2 linked regions of the Homo sapiens genome follow. The protein of the gene in region 1 interacts with the protein of each later gene in a biochemical or structural test. Each region holds a gene or a part of one and is shown on either strand. Other genes may lie near its edges.

Region 1 (3,758 bases):
GAGGAAATCACTTAATTCGATTGCAGTAGGCACCCTCTTGAACACTACTTTTTTGTTTTTTTCTTTGAGACGGAATCTCGCTCTGTCGCCCAGGCTGGAGTGCAGTGGCGCGATCTCGGCTCACTGCAAGCTCCGCCTCCCGGGTTCACTCCATTCTCCTGCCTCAGCCTCCTGAGTAGCTGGGACTACAGGTGCTCGCCACCTTACCCAGCTAATTTTTTGCATTTTTAGTAGAGACGGGGTTTCACCGTGTTAGCCAGGATGGTCTCGATCTCCTGACCTTGTGATCCACCCGCCTCAGCCTCCCAAAGTGCTGGGATTACAGGTGTGATTGAACACTACTTTATTGAAACTTTATAGAGACTATATCAAATGCCCATGGATATGGTGATTTTTTTCAGTGATTTTTATTTGATTTTAATTAACACAGCTGGAAGAAAAGATGTACCTAGCAATTTCATTTGAAAATAGAATCACTGCCTCATTAAAAATTAATTTTAAAAAATCTTCAAAAGTTCAAATTATTTAGTGAAAAAGTATCAAAGCATGACAGAGCCAGTTTTGTGTTTTAGTATTGTAGTTACTTTTATATGATTATCTGAATGCCAATATTTTATTTGACTATCCCTAACACTAAAGGATAAGGTTCATATTTGTTTAATGTTTTCAGGATAGAGCCTACCCCTGAGCCACTTGTAGGAATCTGACATAGTTTACCACACTTTTACATGGATGTTTGGTTTCTGCAAGTTCTTTCTCTTTACCAGTTATTCTGGAACCATTCTGGGAGTTTGCTTTTCAAAGCTGTCTTATGGCATATCTTCTTTAGGTTGTTATACCTGCCCTAATTTAGGTGTTTTTAAAAAAATACCTACATACACATACACACATATATATACACACACATTTATATACATATATGTATGTATACATACATACATATCCATATGTATATATGTGTGTATATATACGTATACATACATATATATATATTTATGTATATAGATGCAGAGCTCACCTGTTCTTTCCCAGGGACACGTAAAAGGTTTTCGTTTCAGCATCTCCAGCTTCCCAAATGGCTAAGTCGCCTTGAGATGGACAATGGTGGAAACTTACTGAGCTTTCCACCTCAAATTTGAAAGTCCCCCTCCCAAGTGCTCTTTAGCAGAAACATGTTCTCCAACCAGGCCCCTTGAAAGAATGTACTTCTCTTAAAGATTTTCAATTACTGCTTAAATAGTAATTATAAGCATGTGGACAAGGTAGAATTTTTAAACACATTTTTGGTCTATTCAGCTCTTAAGTGCTACATACTTGCTGCTTACAGACTTGCAGAATATTAGGAGCAGAATGGAAGGGCCTTTTTTAGATAACGCTAAAGCCTAGAGGAAATTATGGTGCTCATCCAAAGTTGCATGGCTCATTAGTAGTAACACCATCTGGATTCTAGCCCTCCTAGAGAAATCTAGGGGTTCTATTAATAAGAGGCACTGTAGTGTGCTGATTAAGGGCGTGGCCTCTGTGACCAGACTGCAAAAATTCAAACTCTAGTTTTACTGCTTATCAGCTATGTAAACATAGATAAGTTACTTTTACCTAAGTTTTCTCATCTGTAAAATAGGAATGTAAAAGACTATCTCTTATGGTTGGCATAAGGATTAAAATGACAAACAAAATGATTAGAACAGTATCTGATACATAGTGAATGCCCAATAAGCTTAGTCATCATTATTATACATTGTTGCCTTTCAAAGGTAGTTTTCTAAAAACTCTGCAAAGTTTACAAATATCTGAGAACATTTGGTGTATTAAAATGTATTCTGCAGGCCAGGTGTGGTGGCTCATGCCTGTAATCCCAGCATTTTGGGAGGCTGAGGCAGGCGGATCTTGAGGTCAGGAGTTCAAGACCAACCTGGCCAACATGGTGAAACCCCGTGTCTAAAAAAAAAATACAATAGTTAGCTGGGCGCAGTGGTGTGCACCTGTAGTCCCAGCTACTCCGGAAGCTGAGGCAGGAGAATCGCTTGAACCTGGGAAGCGAAGGTTGCCGTGAGTCGAGATCGCACTACTGCAATCCAGCCTGGGTGACAGAGTGAGACTCTGTCTCAAAAAAAAAAAAAAATGTATTCTGCAATAACATCACTATCCTAGAATTTTGCTGAAAAATGCATGTTGGTAAAGGCTAAATGGAGCGAACTAGGTCTACTGAATTTCACAGGTTTATTATTTTAGGAACTTGGTGGTGGCAAAAAGAGAGAACCAGGTTGGGTTCTGAATTCTTGGAAATTATAGAATTATTGTCTGAAGTTAACTGATAGTGATTCAACTTTTTTAAAAAAAAGCAGTAACAAAGAAAATATGCAAATTGGAAGGGGAGGTAGTTATGGCTTTTATTATTTTGTGGGTTTGGACTAGTTGGCTCTTCTATTTGCGTGCTTTCTCTTCATTTAGATGCTTCATTGGATAAGACAATTGGCTTTCCTTTTTCTCATTTTCTTTGCTCTGCAGAGATTACAGTGGAAGCTTCTTAAGTCGTAATGTAGGGTTTCACATAGCTTTCAATTGTAATAATTAAAATTCTTATGTTAAATAACTAATGCCAGAATAATTCTGAATTAATTTATATTTTCTTTAATATTCTTCTTATTTTCTTGCTACTCTAGGTTGTGAAACAGCTATTTTATTCCCAATGCGTTCCAAGAAGATTTTTGGAAGCGTGCATCCAGTGAGACCAATGAGGCTTGAGTCTTTTAGTGCCTGCATTTGGGTCAAAGCCACAGATGTATTAAACAAAACCATCCTGTTTTCCTATGGCACAAAGAGGAATCCATATGAAATCCAGCTGTATCTCAGCTACCAATCCATAGTGTTTGTGGTGGGTGGAGAGGAGAACAAACTGGTTGCTGAAGCCATGGTTTCCCTGGGAAGGTGGACCCACCTGTGCGGCACCTGGAATTCAGAGGAAGGGCTCACATCCTTGTGGGTAAATGGTGAACTGGCGGCTACCACTGTTGAGATGGCCACAGGTCACATTGTTCCTGAGGGAGGAATCCTGCAGATTGGCCAAGAAAAGAATGGCTGCTGTGTGGGTGGTGGCTTTGATGAAACATTAGCCTTCTCTGGGAGACTCACAGGCTTCAATATCTGGGATAGTGTTCTTAGCAATGAAGAGATAAGAGAGACCGGAGGAGCAGAGTCTTGTCACATCCGGGGGAATATTGTTGGGTGGGGAGTCACAGAGATCCAGCCACATGGAGGAGCTCAGTATGTTTCATAAATGTTGTGAAACTCCACTTGAAGCCAAAGAAAGAAACTCACACTTAAAACACATGCCAGTTGGGAAGGTCTGAAAACTCAGTGCATAATAGGAACACTTGAGACTAATGAAAGAGAGAGTTGAGACCAATCTTTATTTGTACTGGCCAAATACTGAATAAACAGTTGAAGGAAAGACATTGGAAAAAGCTTTTGAGGATAATGTTACTAGACTTTATGCCATGGTGCTTTCAGTTTAATGCTGTGTCTCTGTCAGATAAACTCTCAAATAATTAAAAAGGACTGTATTGTTGAACAGAGGGACAATTGTTTTACTTTTCTTTGGTTAATTTTGTTTTGGCCAGAGATGAATTTTACATTGGAAGAATAACAAAATAAGATTTGTTGTCCATTGTTCATTGTTATTGGTATGTACCTTATTACAAAAAAAAGATGAAAACATATTTATACTACAAGGTGACTTAACAACTATAAATGTAGTT
Region 2 (3,758 bases), on another chromosome or scaffold:
GAGACGGGGTTTCACCATATTGGTCTGGCTGGTCTCAAACTCCTGACCTCGTGATCCTCCTGCCTCGACCTCCCAAAGTGTTGGAATTACAGGCATGAGCCACTGCATCCGGCCTGAAAGGAACTTTTATCAGTGTATCTTCTCTCAGCTCCTCATGAGGCTTATCCTGGGTGGTGTGTGCTGGAGGCTGGGCAGAGGGTGCTTCTTAGACAACTTCCAAGGTAAGTTCATAGGCAACATTTCCTTTGCTACTCTCTCTTTTCTTCTCTCTCGTCCTCAGGATTACCCTCTGCATCTTTTCCATATGAAAACCCCATTTCCTCTTTCCTTTATTGAATGCCCCTCAAAATCAGAACTTACATCATTAGGCATTATTCTCTATTTCCTTGATGATATGGAGGATGAGATTTTCAGACACTATGCAGAGGTAAGGGGAAATATTTATATTCTGCATGAGAGTTGGGAGAGGGGAGAAAGAAATCCTCCACCCCAGATCGGGTTAATTCATCAAAGCAACTCATTAAATTTTCGTGTTAAAAGAAGTTGAACATTCACACTTCGCTCTACTTGGAGCTTCATTAAAATGCAAATGAACACAGAAGGGTATCTGTTCTTAGTTATCTGGCCTAACTAAAGATTAATTGCAAACCCTTTCCTGAGAGTAATTTTTGATAAATGAGAACTAGGGGGAAATTAGGTGCTTGAGAGAGATGCAGAAAGGGCACAGCTGGAGGATGTGACAAGAAAAGAATTGGAAAGACTATGGGAAGGTTTTGCTGTAGCACTGCACAACTAAAGTTATATTTACTTCCTAAACCACAAACTTAAAATACGCATATAATTATACTTTCCAAAGAAATATCATGGTTTATTCCTTCCAACTACCTATGAATCTTGCTCTCAGTAACCATGCCTGTCTTCTCCATAGTCACACCCACCTGGTCTAAACTATACCTTTCTCTTTTGCAACAAACTTAAATTCACTAACCCTATCTGTGAACTTGGATACAATTCCCTCATCTTTCATGTGCCACCAGTCCAAAATAAAGATTTTCAATGCTAGTAACTTTATGTATACCTCAGTGAGCATCCAATAAATTCTGTACTCTCAGCCTACATCCCCATAACTGCTCTTTTGAGAAGAGATGAGACCAGAACACACCTGAGATGTTCAAAGCAAAGATGTCTAAGGGATTCAAAGCTAACTTCAAACCAGAGCATGTCTAGCAAGTTGGCTTTTTCAAAGAACTCCAACATCATTGGAGGGACTAAGAAAGCATGGGAGAAATGAATGCTATAATAGGAGTGAATGGGAAGCAATTTGAGACCAAAAGTAGAGAATCTAAGTAGCAAAAAATGACCAATTTTGTAAAAAAATCAAAAGTTGCCAATAAATGGCTATCAATGAACAATAGGAAATGCCATTAGCATCAGCGGTAGTGGGAGTATTATCAGATATGTTACCCAAGGATTCTACACAAAGGAAGAGGAAAGTTTGGGATATTTGAAGACATGATGACTTTACTGTAATAATTATTATCTATTACCTTGATCGTCTTCTTCAAAGTTAGAGTGGTCTAGGGAAGCTAGGGACAAGTTTTTATTAACTTTGTTAGTCTACCCACCTTTCTCCCAACACTTCAAGAATTTGTGGCCTGGGAAAACTGTGTTATAATAGGACATCCCAAAGCTGCTGGAACATCCTGACGCTCTGAAATTGAAATACTTTTCTGGGAGCTGATACATTTATTTAGCTGCTGACCATAACACACCAAAGACTGCAACAGACCCCACCCTGGAAGAAAAGCAGGCAGAGAATAAGGAAGTCATATATCACTGGAGAAAAATTAGGATTCTCCAAGCTGTGCATACTTTTTGTTTTAAATTTTTTACACAGGCTTGACAATGTTTAGAAAAGCCAGTCCAACATTACCAATAAAAGATTAGTGTTTAACCCCATATCCCATAATTGACACTGCAAATAAGACATTTAGGATTTATCTTGAAATTCCTACTGAAGTTCGATTTTCTTTTAATCACTGCTAAATCTGCATCAAGTTACACAAACTTTCTAACAGAAAAGTGTTTGTGACTAACAATAAATGAACTCCGTTCTTAGTAAGTTAATTTTAAAACATAGATGATCATTCTATCTCCTTAGTTTTGGTTGCCAATGCAAATGAGTCAGAGGATTTGCTTCAGACACTGAGATAATTGTGTAACTCTACAGCGGAAAATGCCATTGGAGAGTACTTGCTGACCTCACAGTTGAAAAAAACTATTTAAAAGATGTGGAAACCAGATGTTTCAGTCACATTTCAGCCACTGCTCTGAGAATTTGTGAGCAGCCCCTAACAGGCTGTTACTTCACTACAACTGACGATATGATCATCTTAATTTACTTATTTCTCTTGCTATGGGAAGACACTCAAGGATGGGGATTCAAGGATGGAATTTTTCATAACTCCATATGGCTTGGTAAGAACCTTCACTCATGAGCCTCTTGTTGAGAATGTCAATTCTTTAAATCATGGAGAAGGAAATTTAAAGCAGTAACTTTTTCTATTCTGTACAAGGCTGATGTTCTCAAAGAAAATGCTTAGGAAAGATAGCCTTTGGAATACATACGCTTTTTTTTTTTTAAGCGTTCTTGTCCTCTAAAATTTAAAAATAGCATTTTATAAAGTGAATTGTTCAGTAGAAAATAGCAGTTAATATTTATATTCAGTATGAAAATATATTTTTAAACTTTTCAAAGCAGATGTAGTAGTACAGTGAGGAGTATTTCTTTAACCAACTAGAAACTCCAATATAGTCTTCTGTTTTTATGTCAATGCATTTGCAATCAGATTTCAGAATCCTAACAGGTAAATTGGAGTCTACGAAAATTTTATAATAATTGCTTCATGGACTCTGAGCTATAGTCTATATCTTAGTTTTTTCAAACATTTTGACTATTTTGACCAAGCCAGCTTGCAGTACAGAAAAAAGTGAAAAATGTTTCTCCTTCTGAATGCATTCTTACCACTTTGATTCTTTCTGTTTCTACTATCCATATAAATACTTTTCTGACCCTTTTGTTAGACAAGGAAAGTTTCTTTTGTTATTTTGTTTTGTTAAATGTAAGGAATGAGACAGGCCAAACAGTGAAGATAAACAATAGATCAAAAAAGGAAAATGCAGAAAATCCAAAACACCCCTTAGATTACAGTATGCTAAACAATGCTTTAATTCTCATGATACAAATTGATATTGCTCTATGTTCATTATTGTGTTTAATAGTAAAAAAAAATTGAATTTCTTGGGGAAAAATGCATAGATTCTTGCATAGAATAAAGAAATAAAGAGAAGGCGAAATTAACCTAGATTTTGATTTTATGCTTTCTAAACAGCACAGTTGTAGAATATTTTCCCTTTCAGCATGTTTCTCTCTGGTAATAACTGCAACCATGCGGATTTCATTAAAAAGCCTAATTTGTAATGCACAGCCTTGCCGCCTATTTTTTTCAGCTTGAGCCAGTGAACTAATTTCACTGTGATCCATTTGGCCAAGACGGGATCTGAAATTTAGTAGAGGAATGAGCCCATCTCTTTATTTTAGTTGAATACAGTCAAATATAGGAAATACACTCATATTTGTCAGGATTTTTTTTAAATGTCATAAAGCTAGTAAGAATTAAATCCAGGCAGATAAACTTTGAAATATTATCAAACCCTCTAATAATCAAGTAATTTAGAGTTGTCTTTTAAAGTGTTGT

The links. Proteins that work in one complex are often made in the same cells at the same time.
Region 2: the proteins of PTX3 (region 1) and TNFAIP6 form a complex in vitro, tested with the Homo sapiens proteins (one study listed by IntAct).

Annotation. Positions count from the first base shown.
Region 1 is NC_000003.12:157,439,703-157,443,460, forward strand, and holds part of PTX3 (pentraxin-related protein PTX3 precursor), read left to right. Parts: intron 1-2,663; coding exon 2,664-3,277; 3' UTR 3,278-3,758.
Region 2 is NC_000002.12:151,355,283-151,359,040, forward strand, and holds the start of TNFAIP6 (tumor necrosis factor-inducible gene 6 protein precursor), read left to right. Parts: upstream 1-2,309; 5' UTR 2,310-2,384; coding exon 2,385-2,478; intron 2,479-3,758. UniProt on the Homo sapiens protein: Major regulator of extracellular matrix organization during tissue remodeling. Catalyzes the transfer of a heavy chain (HC) from inter-alpha-inhibitor (I-alpha-I) complex to hyaluronan.